Linked DNA regions of Homo sapiens. The protein of the gene in region 6 interacts with the protein of the main gene of each other region in a pairwise test. Each region holds a gene or a part of one and is shown on either strand. Other genes may lie near its edges. The genes, in order: RIMBP3, SPRED1, PSMA1, CEP76, BANP, C22orf39 and CRYBA2.

Region 1 (4,040 bases), 830 kb from region 6:
CGATGTTCTTGTTACTTGACACTGCCTAAAGGCATGTTCTGTGGGTTCCGGGGAAACTGATTTGAAAAACTTGAGTGTTGTAAAGGAGGGCCATAAGCTGAGTGAACACAGCAGTTGTGAGAGGTCCCAGGTGCTTCCTGGGGACAGGGAGACACGACAGACCAAGAAGCAAAGGGGCCTCTGATGTGACTTCAATATCAAGGTCTTGTCGGGCACAGTGGCTCATGCCTGTAATCGCAGCACTTTAAGAGGCCGAGGCGGGTGGATCACTTGAGGTCAGAAGTTCAAGACCATCCTGGCCAACATACTGAAACCCTGTCTCTACTAAAAAGTACAAAAAATTAGCTGGGCATGGTGGCTCAAGCCTGTAATCCCAGCTACTTGGGAGGCTGAGGCAGGAGAATCTCTTGAACGTGGAAGGTAGAGGTTGCAATGAGCCAAGATTGCGCCACTGCACTCCAGCCTGGCGACAGAGTGGGGCCCCATCTCAAAAAAAAAAAAATCAATGTCTCGATGCAGACTGCCAGGTATCAGGTGTCCATCCATGTCTCCCAAAAGCCACTTGGCACCAGGAGCAGACAGGAAGGGCAAAGAGGAGCCAGACTGAAGCAGGGCTTCTTAGCTCCCAAGCCACACAGGTGGCCACCAGTCAGAGAGGCAGTGTGTGTGTGTGTGTGTGTGTGTGTGTGTATTTCTTCAGTTCAGTGTGTGTATGTATGTTTCTTCTGCAGCTCAGTGTATGTGTGTATTCCTTCAGCTCAGTATGTGTGTGTGTGTATGTTTCTTCTGCAGCTGTGTGTGTGTGTGTGTGTGTGTGTGTGTGTGTGTGTGTGTTTCTTCTGCAGCTCAGGATGCCTCCAACATTTCTGCTGAAGCCTCACCCTCACTCCTGGCCCATCCTGAGGCCTCTACCTAAGATGCCAATGAGTAGCCCAGACACTGGGGCTCCAGTGTTTGTCACCAGGTGGTACCTGGATGTGGGAGGTAGACAGGCCAGATGGCCAGTTTGGGCAGTGCCCCTCATGCCTATCTGGCCCTGGGTCCCTATGCCACCTTGCTGGGGAGGGTCTTTTCGCTTACACCTCCTCTGAGCCGACTCTGCGCAGTAACACAAATGTGTATCAGGCACATCCTTTCCTCAAAAGGTGGATGACCAGTTGGGTGATCAGGGCTGTTAGGGGGCTGAAGGGTCCTGGGGAGTCCAGGTCTAGCCAAGTTGAGGCCTATCCTGCTGCATTTTCCAGCCACCTGACCCAAATACACCACCTGAACCCACGACCAGGTATGCCCACACCCCATGGGTGGCCTTAACACACACACCCTGCCCCTTTCTCCAAGTACAGGAGCAGCAGCCCAGACTTCCCTCGGGGCACCGCGGCCTGCTTGGGACTGCACAGTGCCTGGGAGGGTGCCTGGGGAGGGTCACAAGGGACTTGGTGCTAGAAGCAGGAAAAGTGTAGGGACCGGAAAAGCCCCCGTGCATCCTGGAAGGGACATGGGCCAGTTTGAGCAGGGGTGTGGGAGTCCAGCCCTGGCCTTGCCAGGTGGAGAGGCGCCTGGGCCAGACATCCGCGGCAGGAGGCGGGGGAACATGCCAAGAGGCGGAAGGGGCACGCGGAGACCCCCAGGGGGCGCCGGAAGGGGCGCGCCGGGCGGTCGGCGGCGGCCGTTGGCGAGCTGAGGCCTGCCAGGCGAAGTCTGGAGACCAGCCGGGCCGCGGCCGCAATGGCCAAGGACTCGCCCAGCCCCTTGGGCGCGTCGCCCAAGAAGCCGGGCTGCTCCAGCCCGGCGGCGGCAGTGCTGGAGAACCAGAGGCGGGAGCTGGAGAAGCTACGGGCGGAGCTGGAGGCGGAGCGGGCAGGCTGGCGGGCGGAACGGCGGCGCTTCGCTGCCCGGGAGCGCCAGCTGCGTGAGGAGGCCGAGCGGGAGCGGCGACAGCTGGCTGACCGTCTGCGCTCCAAGTGGGAGGCACAGCGCAGCCGGGAGTTGCGGCAGCTGCAAGAGGAGATGCAGCGGGAACGCGAGGCCGAGATCCGGCAGCTGCTGCGCTGGAAGGAGGCCGAGCAGCGGCAGCTGCAGCAGCTGCTGCACCGGGAGCGCGATGGCGTGGTGCGCCAAGCCCGGGAGCTGCAGCGCCAGCTGGCCGAGGAGCTGGTGAACCGCGGCCACTGTAGCCGCCCGGGGGCGTCCGAGGTTTCCGCGGCGCAGTGCCGCTGTCGCCTGCAGGAAGTGTTGGCGCAGCTTCGCTGGCAGACTGACGGCGAGCAGGCGGCGCGCATCCGCTATCTGCAGGCGGCGCTGGAGGTGGAGCGCCAGCTCTTCCTCAAGTACATCCTGGCGCACTTCCGCGGGCACCCGGCTTTGTCGGGATCACCGGACCCCCAAGCTGTGCATTCCTTGGAAGAACCGCTGCCCCAGACCTCCAGCGGCTCTTGCCACGCCCCCAAACCCGCCTGCCAACTCGGATCTCTAGACAGCCTGAGTGCTGAAGTCGGTGTGCGCTCCCGCTCGCTAGGCCTGGTGTCCTCTGCGTGCTCCAGCTCCCCAGACGGCCTGCTCTCCACGCACGCCAGCTCCCTTGATTGCTTCGCACCTGCGTGTTCCCGCTCGCTTGACAGCACCCGGAGCCTCCCCAAGGCCTCCAAATCCGAGGAGCGGCCCTCCTCACCAGACACCTCCACCCCTGGCTCCCGGAGGCTCTCGCCGCCACCATCGCCACTCCCGCCGCCACCACCACCGTCAGCCCACAGGAAACTCAGCAACCCGCGGGGAGGAGAAGGCTCTGAGAGCCAGCCCTGCGAAGTCCTGACTCCCTCACCCCCGGGCCTGGGCCACCACGAGCTGATAAAGCTGAACTGGCTGCTGGCCAAGGCGTTGTGGGTGCTGGCGCGCCGCTGTTATACCCTGCAAGCGGAGAACAAGCAGCTGCGGCGTGCAGGCTGCCCCTACCAGGCAGACGAGAAGGTGAAGCGGCTCAAGGTAAAGCGCGCGGAGCTGACCGGGCTCGCGCGGCGCCTAGCTGACCGCGCCCGCAAGCTGCAGGAGACCAACCTCCGGGCCGTGAGCGCGCCTATACCCGGCGAGAGTTGCGCCGGCCTGGAGCTGTGCCAAGTCTTTGCCCGCCAGCGCGCTCGGGACCTGTCGGAGCAGGCGAGCGCGCCGCTGGCCAAGGACAAGCAGATCGAAGAGCTGCGGCAGGAGTGCCACCTCCTGCAGGCGCGTGTCGCCTCGGGTCCCTGCAGCGACCTGCATACTGGAAGGGGCGGCCCCTGCACCCAGTGGCTCAACGTCAGAGACTTAGACCGCCTGCAGCGCGAGTCCCAGCGGGAAGTGCTGCGCCTGCAGAGGCAGTTGATGCTTCAGCAGGGCAACGGTGGCGCTTGGCCCGAGGCGGGCGGCCAGAGCGCAACCTGCGAGGAGGTGCGACGGCAGATGCTGGCGCTGGAGCGCGAGCTGGACCAGCGGCGGCGCGAGTGCCAGGAGCTGGGCGCGCAGGCGGCCCCGGCGCGGCGACGTGGCGAGGAGGCCGAGACACAGCTGCAGGCGGCGCTGCTCAAAAACGCCTGGCTGGCGGAGGAGAATGGGCGGCTGCAGGCCAAGACCGACTGGGTGCGGAAGGTGGAGGCTGAGAATAGCGAAGTGCGCGGCCACCTGGGCCGCGCGTGTCAAGAGCGCGATGCCTCCGGCTTGATCGCCGAACAGCTGCTGCAGCAGGCGGCGCGCGGGCAGGACAGGCAGCAGCAGCTGCAACGCGACCCGCAGAAGGCCCTGTGTGACCTCCATCCTTCCTGGAAGGAGATACAGGCGCTCCAGTGTCGGCCTGGTCACCCTCCTGAACAGCCCTGGGAGACCAGTCAAATGCCGGAGTCCCAAGTTAAAGGTAGCAGAAGGCCCAAGTTCCACGCACGGCCTGAAGACTACGCAGTGTCACAGCCCAACAGAGACATACAGGAGAAAAGGGAAGCCTCCCTCGAGGAGAGCCCAGTTGCCCTTGGGGAGTCAGCCAGTGTCCCCCAAGTTTCAGAGACAGTCCCTGCCAG
Region 2 (3,500 bases), on a different chromosome or scaffold from region 6:
TATTTAATCCACCATTGATGGACACCTAGGTTGATTCCATGTCTTTGCTATTGTGAATAGTGCTTGAACTTATTTTTAAAACTACTTTTTCTGTGAGTGTTGGGAGGCTCTAAACAATAGATGCCATTTGAAGACAAGATTAGGGTAGATCACATTGAAATTTTATTTGAGAGTTAATAGTTGAAAATATTAATTTTGTAAAATAGAAGAGGGGGCTAATTCAGTAATATTTTCATGTATTAAAAATTAATTTGGTGTTATTATTATATATTAAAAAACTAGAATCAAACTGTTTTTATGTCTTCCCCTTTTTAACAATTCCAATTTAGCATTGTTTTACAAAATACTGCTTTTCCCACTGTTTATGAATATAGTATAAATGTTGCAGTAATTTATGACACTACCATTTACTTCCCCTTGAATTCTAGAACTTAATCGTGAATTGTTGTTGTTGTTGCAAAATGGTTGTAACAAATATTTAATAGTAAATCTGTGTAAAATGCTTTAGCAAAGTGCCGACTCAAAAAAGCTCTGGATACATGTAAATTATTTTCTTTTTTTGAGACAGAGTTTTACTCTTGCTGCCTAGGCTGGAGTGCAATGGCATGATCTCGGCTCACTGCAACCTCTGCCTCCCAGGTTGAAGTGATTCTCCTGGCTCAGCCTCTCGAGTAGCTGAGATTACAGGTTCCCACCACCACGCCCGGCTAATTTTTGTATTTTAGTGGAGACGGGTTTCACTATGTTGGTCAGGATGGTCTTGAACTCCTGACCTCAGTTGATCCACCCGCCTCAGCCTCCCACAGGGCTGGGATTACAGGCGTGAGCCACTGTGCCTGGCGGTTAATTCTTTTCTAATACACATAGAGTCATCAAAGTATAGGAAGCAAAAGTCTTGAGAGAATTTCACTGCATTGCCTATAAACGGGCAGGACTGAACCTTAGTCACATTTTTGGTTATTTCTGAATTAATAAAACTTACTACCAAGAATTATTATATTCAGTGGTATGCTGATAAAAGGTTTAACAATCAGCTTTCAAGAGGGGACACAAGTCAATGATTTATAGCATTTACATACCTCTACCATGGCTGCTTTTACTCAACATGCCATCATTGCATATAGCATTGGGAAGAAATGAGCAGCAGTGTGGCATTATATAGTATTTCCACCGTACAGATATGACAGACATAAACTACCTCAAGAACCTAGGTAATTGTAAAAATATAGTAAAATAATTAGGAACTGATGAGTTTTGTGTATTTATTATTTTATTTTTAATGCAATTTATTTCATTGTAGAGTTATATATTCTAGCTTTTAACAATGGCTTCCAAAATTCTTGAAAATTTAATATCTGGCTCTTGGGAGCCAGTATAAGCAGACTCTAGCAGACCTCCCCTCCAAAAGTATAAATTAGAGATTCCTAGTCCATGATCTGTGAATGAGTTCCTTGGGAAGTGCATAAAGCCTAAAAGATTTCTGAGGAGAAGTATTGGTTGAGTACCTAATGTTTGTCTGCCACTGTAGTTTAAGGATTTGGCAAACAGACAAAGACCAGCTCATGCAGGGCCTAGTAGGTCATAGTAAGAATTTTAGTCTTGAAAGCATTGAAAAGACATTGAAACTAGGGAGTGGTCCAGTAAAGTTGCTATTTTTTTTTAAGAAAAATTATTACTCTACCTGCAGAGTAGTGCAATTACTATTAGTAATTCACTACTACTAGTAATATCTGAGGGGATCATCAGCAGTGCATGGAAGAGATGTGCAAGTGATAATGGTGATTGGAAAAGAGTGGAGGTAATGAAAATACAACCTTTCACCAAATACCAGCTGAGCATTTATTATGTGTCATGTGCTACTATGGGTTTCATTTGAATTATTTTTAATTCTTTTCCTCCTGTTTTCTTATAGGGGATTCTTAAAATAATTAAGGTGTGTAGTTCTAGTCTTTTTATTAGATTAATTGCAAAGATCACTAATATATCCACTTTTGTTTTATTTGACAACTAACATATATTAAAAGCATACTGTGAATATGATGAAAGACAGGCCCAGGAACGAAAGACTGAAGAGACCTTATAACTGTCCTGGAATGGATCCTATACTGGAAGGATTTTTAAAATGCTCTAAAAGGTGTTATTAGTATAGTAGGCAAAAGTGGAACGTGGTCTATGGAACATGGTCTATAGATTAAAGTTCTGTGTTGGTTTTAAATTTCCTGAATGAGATCACCATACTGTGATTACATAAGAGAATAGTATTGCACTTAGGAAATATACTCAAGTGTGTATTAAAGAGCAGTAGAACATAATATATGTAACTCCTTTGAAATAGTTCATAATAAAGTAAATTAAATGTTTATACATGGATATATGTGGAGAGAATGTTAAAAATTAATGTGATAAATCTGGATAAAGGGAAAACAGGAATTTTCTGTGTTATTCTTGTTACTTTTCTACAAATTTGAAATACTTTCAAAATAAAAAATTTAAAAACCAAGGGTATATTGCTTCATGCATTGCATGAAGCTCTTAACATGAATGCACATTCGGTCATTCCACTCTAAGCTCTGGGATATTTTAGTACTGCAATTTCTGTTTTACAGATGAGTAAACTAAGGCTTCAAAAGTTAGGTAACTCACTTAAATGCATATTTTGAAAAAGTGGCCAAGTGTATTTGTTTTACTGCTGTGACCATTAAATCCTTACACAAAATATAAATACGTCTTTTAAGAAGTTTAGGAAAATGACTTTATTTTGTTTTGTTTTGTTTTTGAGACAAAGTCTCACTGTGTTGCCCAGGTTGGAGTGCAGTGACGTGATCTCAACTCACTGCAACCTCCACCTCCTGGGCTCAGACGATTCTCCTGCCTCAGCCTCCTGAGTAGCTGGGATTACAGGCATGTACCTCCACACCCAGCTAATTTTTTATATTTTTAGTAGAGATGGGGTTTCACCATGTTGGCCACGCTGGTCTCAAACTCCTGATTTCAAGTGATCCGCCCGCCTCGGCCTCCCAAAGTGCTGGGATTACAGGTGTGAGCCACTGCCCCCAGCCAAAAATGACTTTAAAAAGTTAAATTTCTATTATTACCAACCCCCTGCCTGTTTCCTGGAAGTAATTCCTGATATATTCCTCCAGAAATTTTGTATGCAATGGGAGTGTATATATGTGTGTATTCTTAAAATGGGAGTATAATAAGCATCCTGTTTATAATGTGCATTTTTTTATTCCATCTTAATCTCTTTATTGAGTGACTTTGTGAAGTAGACCACTTTATTTAAAATACTAAAAATTATTCATTAAAAAGTAATAGCGTTGTATCACCTCAGTTTGTATTTATGAGCTACATTAGATGCATTTGATATATGTATATTAATTTTTGGTATTTGGCTTTTGTCAGGTGGTTTTGGAATGTATGCTTAAAAAAGACCTCATTTATAATAAGGTCACTCCAACATTTCACCACTGGAAGATTGATGACAAGAAGTTTGGTCT
Region 3 (3,500 bases), on a different chromosome or scaffold from region 6:
TCTTAGACTGGTTAACGAGCTTGTTTTAACAAGGAATGAAGTACTGTCTTTATTTTCAAATTATACATTATTAACAAAGGTCTCTGGCTTATTCTTTAATTGTTGCATAATCCACCAGAGAAATAATGCAATAGGACACTATTTCTTTGGCCTAATATAAAATGTTTGACTTTCTACCGAACCTAAGAAAGAGTGCCAGCAAAATAATTTCTTCCCATCTAAAACCTGATTTGTTTTGGATACAAGGGGTCTAGGATTTCTTGGGACATCTAGAACCATTAAGAAACTTTAAATCCCCTCTAAAAAGATGCTTAGATGATTTTCCTGAAGTTGGGCTTATTTGTGTCTAGCAAATATAAATTGCTTATAAAGGCTAATGAAAGAGCAATCCAATTTGTTGTTTTAAAGTTTTCACAATCTTACCTATGTCATATTATTATTATATTCCTAATAATTAACACAAGTATCAAAACCCTTCAAAGTTCATATCCATAAATGCTAACATAAAAAGGATACTGCTTCCAATTAGAGATACAAGACGAGACACAGGCAGTGGTCTATCGAATACAAATCTGGAATCCAAACACTCCTGACGCATAAAATTACTAAAAAAGAAACAAAAAAAGTTTAGTAATTTCAAATTATAGACAACTATTCCAATCTAAATTGTTTGATTTCACTTCAAATTCTTCCAAGCGTTTACATGGATAACATCCATATAAGAAAAACAGAAGGTAAGAAAGACATGCCTGCAAGGGTGCGTTTTTGTGCTAAACTCTGGAGCCACATAAGGTTTTTAAAAAAGACTGAAACATTTTTTAGCTCTAGAAAATCTTTGTATCAGAGCACTTATGGAACAGAGAAGAGAAGGCTGAACAAAAGAAAAACAGCAACCTCTCTTCTCTTATCCTTCCCACTGTCAGCAAGCTTGTCGTAATTCTAGATCTCGAACCAGCAAAAAGATTATCTACTCTGTCCTTTTTTCTTGAAAGCAGACTAACATTTCTCCAAAAGAGCAAATATAAGAAATGGAAAACACAGCAGGGGGGATCTTTACGTGTTTCTGCCACTGTTACTTCTATTCATAAGAAGCACTCTAGAGGAGATACTGGACACTAGCCGCTGAGTCTCACTGTTAAATCTGATGAAATTCAAGCAAGGTTAACATTGGGGAGAAGAGAATTTATGCCTATAAATAAGATAAACAAGAAATGGATATGCTCCTTTTTCTCAATGTTGCTTTGTCCAGTATATGCGTATGTCACATCTGATCATCACATGGTTGACTACAGGAACCAAGCTATTTGTTCAGTACTTATATTTAAGTCCATTTCCCAATGCTGCCTAAAAGTATACTGCCCAATATGGCAGGCAATAATCACATGTGGCTATGGAGCTCTTGAAAAGTAGCTAGACTGAATTGAGATGTACACCAAGTACAAAATAACATACCAAATTTCAAAGACTTAGTACCTAAAAACGTGCAATAACTCATTAATAAAGTTTTTATATTGATTATGTGTTGGCATGGCAATATTTTATAGATTGGGTTAAATAAAATGTTTGATAATATAATACATTTTCCATTTTGAAGAGTAGGTGGAAACCCTTAAGGCTGTCATTATATTGCTGACTTAGAGCAAGGGACTGGCTGAGTAAATTGAAATTCTTTTTTTTTTTTTTTAATACTGAGTTTCGCTCTTGTTGCCCAGGCTGGAGTGCAATGGCATGATCTCAGCTCACTGCAACCTCTGCCTCCTGGGTTCAAGCGATTCTCTTGCCTCAGCCTCCCAAGTAGCTGGGATTACAGGTGCCTGCCACCACGTTCAGCTAATTTTTTTATTTTTAGTAGAGACAGGGTTTCACCATGTTGGCCAGGCTGGTCTTGAACTCCGGACCTCAGGTGATCCACCCGCTTCAGCCTCCCAGAGTGCTGGGATTACAGGCATGAGACACCATGCTCAGCCTGAAATTCTTAAACCATAGCATTACTATTTACACTGTTTTTGCTGCTGCTGTTGTTTTAAGAATAGGGTCTCACTCGGCTAGGTGCTGTGGCTCACGCCTGTAATCCCAGCACTTTGGGAGGCCGAGGCAGGTGGATCACGAGGTCAGGAGCTCTAGACCAGCCTGGCCAATATGGTGAAACCTCGTCTCTACTAAAAATGCAAAAATTAGCCGGGTGTGGTGGCACATGCTTGTAGTCCCAGCTACTCGGGAGGCTGAGGCAGAAGAATTCCTTGAACTCTGGAGGCGGAGGTTGCAGTGAGCCGAGATCATACCACTGCACTCTAGCCTGGGCGACAGCGCGAGACTCCGTCTCAAAAAAAAAAAAAAGAATAGGGTCTCACTCTGTTGCCTACGCTAGAGTACAGTGGCACTATCATAGCTCACTGCAACCTTGAAATCCTAGGCTCAAGCAATCCTCCCACCTCAGCCTTTTGAGTAGCTAGGACAACAGGTGTGTGCCACCACACCCAGCTAAGTTTTAAAATTTTTTGTAGAGATGGGGATTCACTATGTTGCCCTGGTCTCAAATTCTTGACCTTAAGCTTCTCAAAGAGCTAGAATTATAGGTAGGAGCCACTGTGCCAGGCCCACCCTTATAATTTATATTCTTTCTTTCCTAATCAAATCACAAATTTACAAGATTAGTTTTAGCTAACTACCTGCCATCCACAACACACATACTCACATAATACCTGAAAGGCTCTGTGTTAGTGGTTTACAGTAGGCAATTTAAAATATTTAAAAATAGGCTGGGTGCAGTGGCTCACACCTATAATCCCAGCACTTTGGGAGGCTGAGGTGGGCAGATTACCTGAGGTCAGGAGTTCAAGACTAGCCTGGCCAACATGGCGAAACCCCGTCTCTACTAAAAATACAAAAATTAGCCAGGCGTGGTGGCGGGTGCCTGTAATCCCAGCTACTCGGGAGGCTGAGGCAGGAGAATCGCTTGAACCTGGGAGGTAGAGGTTGCAGTGAGCTGAGATCACACCACTGCACTCCAGCCTGGGTGAGAGTGAGACTCCATCTCAAAAAAATAAATAAATAACATTTAAAAATAGCCTTGATAAAGAAAACACTGGAAAAAATTCAGTGTTTAGGTATTTAGCCAAATCTCAGATACTAAGTGGTGAAGGTGAGAACTCAATATGTGCAATTTCAAAGCCCTATCTCTTCATTTATGTATTGCCTTTTAACCATAAATAATCTGTCTCTTCTAGACTCTCACAGAAATTTTTCTGTTATATTATAGATAAACTACATTTGAGTTTATAGATAAACTTGCCTTCAAGTTCCCTTAAGACAAGATCCATGTCTGAGTCACTTATGTATACCCTGCAGTATCCAGTATTGAGCATTGCAAAAAATAAATGTCTAATAAATACTGATGTATTGAAGAAAACAAGCACAAAGAAAACAAGTGTGGTTCAGCTTGTCCTTAGAAACCAGACAAAAGTATCACGTTCTTCTTAGACATAACAGGGTCTCAAACG
Region 4 (3,500 bases), on a different chromosome or scaffold from region 6:
CTGTCTAGCTGTCTGCTGCCCTATACACAGCTACATCTCCAGTGTCTAGAACAGTGTCTAGCACATTTTGACATCTATTTAGGATCCATACATATTTCTGACTTTAATTTCTTTTAAGAGACAGGGTCTTGCTCTGTCACCCAGTCTGGAGTGCTACTGCATGATCATGGCTCACTGTAGCCTCGAATTCCTGGGCTTAAGCGATCCTCCCACCTCAGCCTCCCCAGTAGCTGGGACTACAGGAATGCACCACCATGTGCAGTTAATTTTTAAAAATTTTTGTAGAGATGAAGTCTACCTATGTTGCCCAGGCTGGTCTTGAACTCCTGGCCTGAAGTGATCCTCTTACCTTGGCCTCCCAAAGTGCTGGGATTACAGATTAATTAGCCTGGCTAAAAGTTTTAATAGTGCAATTTTAAAGAGAAAATTAGAAGCAATTTATTTATCAGATAATAGAATAAACTTATGTTTTAGTCACTAGAAATTATAAATATGACAGTGGAAATATAAGAAAATACATATAAAATAATGTTAAGTTTAAAAAGGAGAACCTGGTGGGGCACAATGGTCCATGTCTGCAATCCCAATGTTTTGGGAGGCTGAGGCAGGTGGATTGCTTGAGGCTGGGAGTCTGAGGTTTCAGTGAGCTATAATCACACCACTGCACTCAAGCCTGAGAGAGTGAGATGCTGTCTCTAAAAAAATAAAATTTAATTAAAAAAAACAAGCTACTACCCCAAAAAAGTAGAGCCCAAACATTTACTTTATATGTCACATAAATATATGAATAACATGATTAAAACTCATGTATACCACTTTGGGAGGCCGAGGCAGGCAGATCACGAGGTCAAGAGATCGAGACCATCCTGGCCAACATGGTGAAACCCTGTCTCTATTAAAAATACAAAAATTAGCTGGGCGTGGTGGCACCCACCTGTAGTCCCAGCTACTCAGGAGACTGAGGCAGGAGAATTGCTTGAACTCGGCAGGCAGACGTTGCAGTGAGCCAAGATTGCGCCACTGCACTCCAACCTGGCGACAGAGCGAGACTCTGTCTGAAAAAAACAAACAAAAAAACCCCTCACGTATACACATAATGTATATGTGTGTATACACCATTTATTTAAGAGACAGGGTCTTAGTCTGTAACCCAGGCTAGTGTGCAGTGGTACAATCACAGCTCACTGTAACCTCAAATTCCTGGGTCAAGCAATCCTCCCATTTCAGCTTCCCAAGCAGCTGGGACTACAAGTATGTACCACCATGCTTGACTAATTTTTTAAAATTTTTGTAGAGACAGGGTCTCACTATGTTGCCCAAGCTGGTCCTAAACTGCTGGACTCAAAAGTGATCCACCCACCTTAGCCTCCCACAGGGCTGGGTATTTATTTGAGTAACATCAAAGTTGGTTCTCACTATGTGGTTTCAGGTATATATACCACCCATGACACATGTCAGAAGCTAGAGATTAGAGGGAGATGAGAGTTTACAAAAGGAAGGAAAAAAAGTTTAAAGAAAACAGGGCAGGACATTGTTTGCCTGAGGGAGAAGCACTAGCGTCTAACCACAGGTCTGTAAAAGGAACAATATGACAGGCAGGGTGGAGTAAAGGGTGGTGTATGTAATCAAGGAGAACCATTCCACAAGTGCCATCCCGGCAAGTCAGCAGATAATGAGAACCTCCAAACTAAAGACTGGCAAGAACTAAACATGGATGGCAAATCCAATGTGAAGGAATGAAAAAATCTGCCGATCTTTTAAGACCCAGGAAGAAAGTAATTCATCAGAGACCTGACAGTGGAATTAGGGAAAAAAGCCTCTCCAAACACACTCTAAAAGTGGCAAGCACTTCTACCCTGAGAGAACAGAGCAGAAAAGACATAAGCAGCAAGCTTTCAATAAACGCCTGCGAAAGAACGTTAAAATCCCATCCCACTGAGGTTGCACTTTACTCTTTGATCTTCTTCAGCTTTATCCTGTAATTCTTTTTTTTTTTTTCTTTTTTTGAGATGGAGTCTTGCTCTGTTGCCCAGGCTGGAGTGCACTGGTGCGATCTGGGCTCACTGCAAGCTCCTCTTACCGGTTCACGCCATTCTCCTGCCTCAGCCTCCCGGGTAGCTGGTACTACAGGTGCCTGCCACCACGCCCGGCTATTTTTTTTTTTTGTATTTTTAGTAGAGGCGGGGTTTCACCGTGTTAGCCAGGATGGTCACGATCTCCTGACCTTGTGATCCGCCCGCCTCGGCCTCCCAAAGTGCTGGGACTACAGGCGTGAGCCACCGGCCTATCCTGTAATTCTTATGCTGTCTCAATAAATGTTCATCGTATTTCCTAAACTAGACTACAGATTCTGCTAGGAAAACAATCTTGTCTTTATTTTCTTCCTCATCCTTTTTGTGAACCTTTGAGTGCTAATCTAGAAAGTAATAAATGGTAATTTTCTAAAAATAGAGTGCTTTCTAGGATCAACAGGTAAATATACTACTATGAAAACAAACACACAAAAAAAGAGAAACTCATAAGTATTTACCTGTGTGTTCACTACTTCTTGAGATAACGTTTGATTGAGTGGTGGATACATTTCAAGTTTTATATTTAAAATTCCCACAGAAACTTTTGATTCTGTGCCTATAAACATAAATATTTTGAACTTCAGAGATTTCAATACTATATATATTTAGTCAACCAAAGTCTAACCAAAATAATTTAGGCACTTGGGTGTTTTATCACTTACATGGAATAAAGATAACATTCAACATTACCTTTAATATTCATATTAAAATGAACCAAATCAATTTTTTTAAACAAAGGTGTTTAATTATAAGGAGATTATTTTCTTAGCTTTCTGACACTCTTTTTCTTCTTTAAGTAGAGATGGGGTCTCCCTATGTTATTCAGGTTGGTCTTAAACTCCAGGGCTCAAGTGATATTCCTGCCTCAGCCTTCCAAAGTGCTTGGTGGGATTACAGGCATGAGCCACTACACCTGGCTTTTCTAACAGGTTTTAAGAAACTTTTCTGACTTAAAGGATTTGAGACTCTTAATTTTTGTCTTAATTAAATGTATAATATCAACCAGACTTACATTAAATTCAAAGTCAAAGCAACTGTTAACACCTCATTCCTTCTCCACACACACACACACACACACACACACACACACTAAAAATTAGAAAGCATTTATATTGTCACTTATAGTAACTCCCATTTGTCACTCCCCATTATCCAATTACAGGCTGAGTAGAAATTTTCAATCCATGCCTGGATTTAAAGAACTAGAAAACAAATATACTTCACATCAAAACGATTTAATGTTTCTTCAGTGAATCAGAATCTGCTTGTTTCCAGGTCACTGCTACGATTATCATGTTAGGCCTATTTTTGAAGACAAATTGGGTATTGTTTTTGAAAATAAATTTCTTACATAAAGGACACTTTTTCTATAATTTTTATTTAAAGAAAAATACATTCTTGGTATGACTTATTAAAATCTAAATTACT
Region 5 (2,191 bases), on a different chromosome or scaffold from region 6:
CCGCAGAGGCGCGCCCTGTACTCTGCGTGGTGTTTGGTTCCACATTGTCGCCGACCTCACTGGAGATGCGCTGGAAGCACGGTGAGGGCCATGGGCGCAGAACGCACAGGCAGTGAGGAGCGGGTGGGTGGGATGGTGAAGGCAAACTCGTTCGGCAGCGCTTATTTTATGTGGTGTGAACCTTGGCCTGTCCGTGAAGAACAGTCAGGCGTGGCTGCCTCAGCCCCTGCCGAGGACGCGTGGCAGCCCCCCGTGCCGTTCCAGATAGGAGCGCTGCAGGAGGGCAGTGAGGTCCGCGCCCAGGAAACTAGATGTGGGGGCCATGCCTGAGGGCGTCCTGCTGCATTATAAGTTTCTGGTCATTTTCCGATTTCAGAATTGAACAAACCTGTGTCCCATGGTTGGTGTTTACACCCCTAGCTTCCTGTAAGCTCTCTCTGTTACCATGCCCTCCTGGCAGGCCCCAGGTGAATGATTTAATTAGGATCCATCGTAACAGCCAAGGAAGACGGCGTGCTTAAGGGGCCGCTTTCCCTGCAGAAAACCCCAGCGTGGTTGGACTTGGTGGTGAGCGGGTTTGCCCATCTGAGGCCAGACAACTGCAGGGTGCGTTAGCTTGTCACCAAGGGCCCAGCTCTCTGCCTTACCATCTCAGCTTGTCCTCAGGCTAGCTCTGCCCCACTGGGAAGTGACCGAAGGCCTTCATGGTGACTCTGCAGGCGTGACTGCACCCAACAGAGACAGGTTTCTGGTTGAGCCTCCTTATCCACATGAAGCCCCCACCCCAGTCATGCTTGGGAATGGTCTTGCATCTTGCATGGGTCAGAGCAGGGTCACGCGCTTGAGCTCGTTCTAGGAAAACCTGTGGCTCAGCTGTGAGGGCCTGGCTCTGAGAAGATGGGTTCCCTTAGGAGGGAAGGCAGGTAGCTGGCCTGTGGGGGTGGCCAATCCTCAAAGTGGAGAGTGGGGCCTGTTCCCTGGAGCAGTGGGTTGGGAGGGTAGGGGGGTGCCATTTGCAGGGGAAGACACTTGTCTTAATGCGCGGTGGCCTGTGGGTGTCACAGGCTCCCTGAACCATCTGTAGCAGAGGCAGCACCTCCACCAGCCTCTGCCCAGAACACAGGTCTGGCCACTGTCCTTGGAGGGCAAGTGAGTCCCAGCCAGCCCAGACCTGTGCCCCACTGTCCCCACCCACCCAAGTCCCCAGCTGCCTTTCCAGCTGTCTGGGGGAAGGGGCTTTGCATCCCAGGCGGTGGCCCCCCTACCCCAACCTCCCATGGCCTTCAGCCACCCACCCCAGGGCCCTGGTGTGGCTCCTCCATTCCAGCTGAGGTTCACCCCTTCCCGTTAGGCCTTCCCAGCTGTGGCCGGGCTCGCAGGAGACAGTCCTCATACTGACCCCTCATCCTACCCTGGAAGGCCCCTCCTCCATCCAGGGAACAGTATATCGAGTGTCATTTGACATTTGTCTTGAAAAAGCACAACCTGGACCAGGTGCAGTGTTTCATGCCTGTAATCCCAGTGCTTTGTGAGGCCGAGGCAGGGGCGTTGCTTGAGCCCAGGACTTCAAGACCAGCCTGGGCAACGTAGCGAGACCCCCATCTCTACAAAACGTAAAAAAATTAGCTGGGGCCGGGCACGGTAGCTCACGCCTGTAATCCCAGCATTTTGGGAGGCTGAGGCAGGCCAATCACCTGAGGTCAGGAGTTCGAGACCAGCCTGCTCAACCTGGTGAAACCCCATCTCTACTAAAAATACAAAAATTAGCCAGGCATGGTGGCAGGTGCCTGTAATCCCAGCTGCTCGGGAGGCTGAGGCAGGAGAACTGCTTGAACCCGGGAGGCGGAGGTTGCAATGAGTCGAGATTGCGCCACTGTGCTCCAGCCTAGGTGACAGAGTGAGACTCCGTCTCAAAAAAATTTAGCCGGGCGTGGTGGTGTGCACTGGTGGTCCCAGCTACTTGGGAGGCTGAGGTGGGAGGATCACTTGGGCCCATGAGGTCGAGGCGGCCGTGAGGTGTGCTTGCACTACTGCACTCCAACCTGGGCAACAGAGCAAGACCCTATCTCTAAAAAATAAAATGAAGCAGGACCTTAACTAGAGTAGAAGTTGCCAGGCCTCTTCCTCCCGTGGGCTCGGCCGTGGGCTCGTGGCTTCTCCTGGCTCTTCCTTTGTGGTTCCTGTGCCTTCC
Region 6 (2,163 bases):
CATGCAGGCTGCAAACTCATTTTATTATTTTATCTTTGAGACAAGAGTCTCACTCTGTCGCCCAGGCTGGAGTACAGTGGCACGATCTCAGCTCACTGCAACCTCTGCCTCTGGGGTTCAAGCAATTCTCCTGTCTCAGCTTCCCGAGTAGCTGGGATCACAGGCACGTGCCACCATGCCCAGTTAATTTTTGTATTTTTAATAGAGATGGGGGGTTTCAACCATGTTGGCCAGGCTGGTCTCAAACTCCAGACCTCAAGTGATCCACCCACCTTGGCCTCCCAAAGTGCTGGGATTACAGCAGACTGCAAATTCAGATGCCCCGTCCCTGTGTTTAAGAGTAAGAAAAACCTTGTAGATCTCTAGCAGTCTTCCTCTCTTCCCTCACTGGGTGGAAATGCTCATTATTAAACCAGCCACAGCCATGCTGGAGGCACCCTGGTTGCCTTAGACACATCAGTACTCCCCTGATGATGGGGGAACGCTGGCTCCTCTTTAGATGCTCCTGCTCTTGGGATCCCGTGAGCACAACCCCCACCCCCACCCCCACTGTTCACAGACACAGGGGCTCTTAGGGAGCACAGGAGAAAACACACTCAAGCAGGGAAATACTGTTCTTTAATGGACACCCTTCTAACGTGATAGATTATTCTGCCCCAAAGAACAAATTAAAAGATATTCAACTTGCTGCCTGTGTCCAGGAAGAGAGCAGGGAGGGTGCTGGGCACAGACCCAGCCTAGCCCTCAGCATCACACAACAGGGCCACCATAGGATGAGAAACCATTCTATTAGTAATAAACAGACCTCTTCAAGAAATAGTGTTTTTGGTGGTTCATACATTTTAAAACACTTAACAAGAGAATAAGCATACAAATTTCTAATACTGTCCAGGTACAACACTGTTACACACAAAATCTAACAAGTGTGAACTTAATTTTCAGCTTCTATTTGAAATCAGATGAAATAGCTTTTGATACATTAACCACCAGGGGAAATTTTGAGGGAAGGAGTGCTTAATTCCATATGTCTTGGACTTGGATTTCTTCAGCTGAGTCCACAAACCCTCTTTATGCAAGGTTGTGTGTTCTGTAGCTGTGTGCATTTCTTAAAAACCAGAGTCTCCAGGGGCCGACCTGGGAGCCTAAGAAGTGAAGCCTGCTGGTGCAGAGGGGCCAGCAAGCCCTACCTGCTCGGCACACCTGCCTGCATGTGCAGTGGAACTGAGCGAGTGGAGCAGAGTGTGAGCACTCACAATGCTCACCAAACCTGGGACGTGGCAGGCAGTTTCCCAAGGACTAGGAAAGACATTCACAGTGGCACAACTGTTTAGCTACCTCATTATGACCCACCTGTGTGTCCACACAGGTCAGGGCTACCCTTCAGTTTACCTGAGAAGCCTAGACCTCAGGACCGCCATCTCCTATGCTACCATGCCCAGCCTGACCTGGCTGCTCACAAGTACCTGCCATAATGCTTGGCCTCCTGGAAGCTCTAAAGCGGTGCAATTGTCCTGCAGAACATCGCAGTGTCAGGGTATCCTGCATGCAGGTGAGGGGTGGGCAAGTAGGGCTAGCAATGTCCTGCTCCATGTTCCTGTGAGCAAGAGCTCACAGGGACCCACCAGACTGTGTAGGCTGGTCACAGTCCCCAGGGCTGTGCAACAGCAACTTGAAACAGACTGAGGAAGCTGCACAGGCCAATGGCAGGGATGCTTGTCACTCGTCCTTCTCCTGTGGCAGAGGGAGATGCCAGTCTGGAGGGGGGCTCTGCCTCGGGGCCCACACCAGGATGTGCTTCCGTGCAGCCCGGACTCGTGCCCGCTCGCTCTCACAGAGGGATTGCTGTGCAAATGAGACTCTAGTCACTCCCCAGGCTCTGAGCACCCTCAAGACCCCTGTACCTCCCCCCTCTCATCACCCTCTGAAACACAGATGGACAGGCAGGGCCTATGGTACACACCACTCTGCAGCACAGCTGCTTCCACCTACTATACCTTGGCGATTCTTCCATATTAGCGCACAGAGATGGAGATCATTTTTTTTCTCACAAGCTACTGTGAAAAACTACTGAATAGGTCATAATAATTTGAGGAATTTTTAAATATCTTCTCCTGGACCTCAGGGCTCAATGGCTCTGGTTGACCTCGTGAGTCTGGGGCATAT
Region 7 (4,140 bases), on a different chromosome or scaffold from region 6:
TCATGTTCTCCAGCCCTTCATCTGTGCCCATATTGCCCGCTGCCCCCCATTCTCCTAGGACCTCCTCATTTCCTCCCTTCCAGTCTGACTCCATCATCTCCCTCCCCTTGCCTCCAAGTCCCCAATATCTCTCTTAGCGCCCTCCCCACATCACTTTTCTCCACCCTCTTCCTTGGTCCCCATTGCCTCCCTGCTCTTCTGTCTCCCTGGTTCCAGTTCCAGGACTCACGCTCCGGAGCTGACTTTGAGGGAACCCACATCCTTGCTGGCCCAGCCCATGGAGGGCAGGGATGGGTAGTCATCAACGAGGTCAAACTTGCAGCCTTGGAAGTTGTCCCCCTCAAACAGTGTCACACGGCTGTCATTGTGGTTCTGAGGCACAGCAAGATCAGGACAGAAAGATCAGGGCTTCCAAAGGGTTAACGGATACATCCTCTGCCTCACTTCCCCCACCCACTGCACCTCACAAGCTGTGAAGCTGTCTAGGACCCACAGGCACTCCCAGAGCTCACCCCATCAGCTCCCTGGCAGTCTGGGAAATGGATCGCTCAGAGGTTCCCCCGAACCTGGCCCCTCCCATGACTTTGAGATAAGGAGGTGATTGGGGGATAGGATTTCCAGAGACCCTTTCAGGTCAGGACTAGAGAGCATCTTGTGACATGGGCCCATTTTGCAGGAGCAAAATCAGAGGTCCTTAGAGAAATCTGTCCCATTCACCAAGACAGTTCCCTGAGGTCCTCATTGACTAACTACCCAAGCCCTTGCCCAGCCCCTTCGCACAGCCTCTCACAGATTAGTGCCCAGCTAAGAGGTACTGGGTGGCAGAATCAGAATAGACATGTCAGGGCATCAATACTGATTGCATCTTGGCTCCGGCCTTCCCACTGCAGGGTTCTTCAGCCTCTTGGAACAGAAGAATTGGGCTGGCCTGGGCTGGGTCCTCTGCTCTCCACTTCCCAGCCCTACTAGTAACCAGGTCGGCACAAATGGAAAATGAGGTCCTCTCTTTCGGTGTATTTGATTCATTAACAACACCCTCACACACACAATAACACACACACAAACACACTGAGACTGACTCTTTTCAGTGACCCTGGGCAAGCCACTTTGTCCCTTTGAGCCCCATTTCCACACCTGTGTATGGGGCTAACAGCAGTCAACCCGACCTCACATGGCTGTGTGACGACAGAGGCACTCACTCACACGTGTGGACGATGGAATGTGGGGGAACCCTGGGCACTCAGGACTGGGATGGCCTCAGCGCTGTCCGTGGTGATGATTTCTGGGCTCCGGGCCTACGCCCACAATCCCAACTTTCTTGGAGACACCCTTCTGATTCTGAGAAATAATGCTACTACCACCCATCTCGGAGTTTGTTTACACACACCCCATGCAGGGCTTGAACAGCCTTTCTAGGTGCCATGGTGAGGCCAGGGCCTGGAGCTAGGAGGCAGGGGAGGAGAAGTGGGCTGTGCTCACCGCGCAGAGCACTGGCCGGAAGGACAGCAGCTGGTTGCTGTTGTGGCTGCTGCTGCCACTCCAGGCGCTCCAGCGAGGATAGTCTCCCTTCTCCAGAATGAACTGCTGTCCCTGGAAGTCGGGGTACTCAAAGGCCACCCAACTGGAAAAGGAGAAGAGCTGGGAGGTATCTGCCCCAGCCGCACCCTCTCTGCCCTCCCCCTTGCCGGCCATGATTGAAAAGACTGAGAAGCACAATGTTTTTCTCCAACCCCAAACCCTTCCCCTGACACCCCCATTGTATGGCAATCCAGCCCCTCTCGGAACTAAAGGTCCAAAACCTGCTGCTTTCTGGGGTTTGAGGCGCCCAGGCTTCCCCCTCAAGGACCCCAGGTTGGGAAAGAGTTTTCCTGGTTATGAAGATCTCCCGACCCAGTGCTCCTGCCTCAAGGGTTTAGGCCTTTGCATGGGGACACATTGGAGGACCCCTCCCGAATATCACAGCAGAAACTGGGACCTCAGCTGGGGCAGGGGTAGGGGGCGGCAGGGTGGGAAAAGCTGGGCTCTGGGAGACCAGGGTGGGGCCAGGGAAAGGGATTGGGTTTCTTTTGTTAAGCCAAGTGCAGAGCCTTCTAATTTTGCACAGAGAAAAACTCTGGGAAGGGTGTAAGTACACTAGAAACCCCTTCACGGTGGGGTCCCATAGGGACCCTCAAGGGGTCGCTTCTCGCCTGTGTCTCTTTAGCTAGCACAAAAATACACAGTTTCCCATGATTTATCTTGCGATGGGTGGGGAATTTTGGGGAGGCTATGGGGTTTCCCATGTTGGCAGGTCTCTCCAGGGCTCACAGGACAGGGGGCTGAGGCTCTGAGCCTAGGCCGGTGGAACCCAGCGCCCCTCAACCCAGCCCAGCCGCGGCCAGGCAATCACTCACACGCCGTTTTCCACCTTGACCGAGCGCACCCTGGGCAGGCCTCCGCGCTCGCAGACGTTCGCACAGTCGCTTAGCAGCCGACAGCGACGGCCCTGGAAGTCCTCCTCGTCCCAGAGCGTGAGGCTGGCGGGCGCCGGGCCCGGCGCGGGGGCGCTGCTCATGCCGCTGCGGACAGGAAGGGTGGCACCACGCGCTCAGCGTCTCAAGAGCCCCGTTTCGAGCCACACACAGCCTGCCCAACCTGGGTAGCGGATGAAGAACCCGGGGGCTGGACCCGGCCTAGCTCTGGACCCGGCTGCCAGGGGCTCGCAGTCTTCCCGCGCTCCCCTCCCTTCCCCACCCCAGCAGAGGGCATTCACCGGGTGGGTGAGCGCGGCACGCGAGGGAAATGGACCGGCTGCGAGGCTGCGCGCGGCCGGGCGGGCCGAGCTTTATACCTGGGCCTTGTCCCCCTGTCCGCACCCTTTCCCTCGGGGGTGGGGTCGCTGAGTCAGCAGGCAGGCTGCGGTCGGCTCTGGTCTCCGCTGGGGAGCCGAGGCCTCTCCCGCAGCCGCCGCTGTGGCCCCAGCCCGCGGGAAAGACAACAGAAAGTGCTGAGGCGCGCACCCCGCGCCCGCCGCAGCCCAGGCTGACTCCGCGCTTTCTTTCTTTCCAGCCTGAGCCAGGCAGGGCACGCCAGGCCTCGGGGCAGAACGCGCCCTCCCTGTCCCGGCCCTCGGGGACGAAGGGACCTGGCCTCCCCTGGGCCTCGGGCTAAGACCGCGCTGCTGACTCGCTGAGCGGAAGTTCTTCCCAGAGTCTAATCGCCAGCCTTCCTCGGCCCTAGTCCAGGCCTCTCTTTTGGGCGATGCTAAGGCGGAGGTAGAGAGGGCTCTGCCCAAAGGATTCGCTTCATGTGCTCAGTCCTCTTTTTCCTGGGGGATCGGTCCATCGCGGCCCTTTTCCTCCCAAGCGTGCGTTCCCAGATCCTGCGCCGCGCCCCCGGGGTGTCCTCGGGCCCGGGAAGGAGAGGAGGCGGTGGTCAGGACTCGCCACGCGGCGGCGCCGGGCGCTGGAAACGACCGCCCGAGGGCCGCGCGGTTTACTCAGTGTTTAGGCATAATAGCCACCTAGGGAGTGGCTCGCCGCGGGAGGTAGGAAGAATGTTGGGCTTTAGCTCGGCTCAACCGGTGCCGCTGCGGGTCTCCCACAAAGCTCCAGGCTCTAAGGGTTCCAGCCTCGACGTCTGCCTGAGAGTTAGCAGCTGAGGATGAAGCGCTTAGTTCAGGCCGAGTTCTCTGCTCAGGCTTTCGGGTGCGTGAACTCCATCAATTCTAACACTGACCTGCTAGGAAGATACTGTTATTGTCCTGCATTTCGCAGATGAAGAAGTGGAGGCCCAGAGGGCTTTGGAATGTGGTGCAGGGGTCACAGCTAAGAAATCTCCCAGGGCCGGGCGCAGTGGTTCACACCTGTGATCCCAGCACTTTGGGAGGCCCAGGTGGGAGGATCTCTTGAACCCAGGAATTTGAGACCAGCCTGGGCGACATGGTGAAACCCCGTCTCTGCAAAAACAAACAAAAATTAGCCGGGCGTGTTGGCATGCGCCTGTAGTCCCAGCTACCTGGGAGCCTGAGATGGGAGAATTGCTTGAGCCCAGGAGGTGGAGGTTGCAGTGAGCCGAAATCAAGCCACTGCACTCCAGTCTGGGCGACAGAGTGAGCTGGGAAAAGGCGGCGGTGGGGGTGGGGGTGGGGGGTGTAGAGAA

Evidence for each region.
Region 1: the proteins of C22orf39 (region 6) and RIMBP3 interact in binary tests that used the Homo sapiens proteins (3 or more experiments, as listed by UniProt).
Region 2: the proteins of C22orf39 (region 6) and SPRED1 interact in binary tests that used the Homo sapiens proteins (3 or more experiments, as listed by UniProt).
Region 3: the proteins of C22orf39 (region 6) and PSMA1 interact in binary tests that used the Homo sapiens proteins (3 or more experiments, as listed by UniProt).
Region 4: the proteins of C22orf39 (region 6) and CEP76 interact in binary tests that used the Homo sapiens proteins (3 or more experiments, as listed by UniProt).
Region 5: the proteins of C22orf39 (region 6) and BANP interact in binary tests that used the Homo sapiens proteins (3 or more experiments, as listed by UniProt).
Region 7: the proteins of C22orf39 (region 6) and CRYBA2 interact in binary tests that used the Homo sapiens proteins (3 or more experiments, as listed by UniProt).

Annotation. Positions count from the first base shown.
Region 1 is NC_000022.11:18,609,120-18,613,159, reverse strand, and holds the start of RIMBP3 (RIMS-binding protein 3A), read left to right. Parts: upstream 1-1,240; 5' UTR 1,241-1,725; coding exon 1,726-4,040. UniProt on the Homo sapiens protein: Probable component of the manchette, a microtubule-based structure which plays a key role in sperm head morphogenesis during late stages of sperm development.
Region 2 is NC_000015.10:38,318,836-38,322,335, forward strand, and holds part of SPRED1 (sprouty-related, EVH1 domain-containing protein 1), read left to right. Parts: intron 1-3,405; coding exon 3,406-3,500. UniProt on the Homo sapiens protein: Tyrosine kinase substrate that inhibits growth-factor-mediated activation of MAP kinase. Negatively regulates hematopoiesis of bone marrow.
Region 3 is NC_000011.10:14,513,887-14,517,386, forward strand, and holds part of PSMA1 (proteasome subunit alpha type-1), read right to left. Parts: intron 606-3,500; coding exon 517-605; coding exon of another isoform or gene 467-516; exon of another isoform or gene 24-466; intron 2-23; coding exon 1-1. UniProt on the Homo sapiens protein: Component of the 20S core proteasome complex involved in the proteolytic degradation of most intracellular proteins. This complex plays numerous essential roles within the cell by associating with different regulatory particles.
Region 4 is NC_000018.10:12,692,724-12,696,223, forward strand, and holds part of CEP76 (centrosomal protein of 76 kDa), read right to left. Parts: intron 2,629-3,500; coding exon 2,531-2,628; intron 1-2,530. UniProt on the Homo sapiens protein: Centrosomal protein involved in regulation of centriole duplication. Required to limit centriole duplication to once per cell cycle by preventing centriole reduplication.
Region 5 is NC_000016.10:88,073,434-88,075,624, forward strand, and holds part of BANP (protein BANP), read left to right. Parts: intron 1-2,191. UniProt on the Homo sapiens protein: Controls V(D)J recombination during T-cell development by repressing T-cell receptor (TCR) beta enhancer function. Binds to scaffold/matrix attachment region beta (S/MARbeta), an ATC-rich DNA sequence located upstream of the TCR beta enhancer.
Region 6 is NC_000022.11:19,442,549-19,444,711, forward strand, and holds part of C22orf39 (synaptic plasticity regulator PANTS), read right to left. Parts: intron 1,843-2,163; coding exon 1,717-1,842; 3' UTR 1-1,716. UniProt on the Homo sapiens protein: Negatively regulates long-term potentiation and modulates adult synaptic plasticity. Stabilizes the interaction of RTN4 isoform A/Nogo-A with its receptors, inhibiting clustering of postsynaptic AMPA receptors at synaptic sites.
Region 7 is NC_000002.12:218,990,623-218,994,762, forward strand, and holds the start of CRYBA2 (beta-crystallin A2), read right to left. Parts: upstream 2,801-4,140; 5' UTR 2,555-2,800; coding exon 2,394-2,554; intron 1,622-2,393; coding exon 1,480-1,621; intron 373-1,479; coding exon 230-372; intron 1-229. UniProt on the Homo sapiens protein: Crystallins are the dominant structural components of the vertebrate eye lens.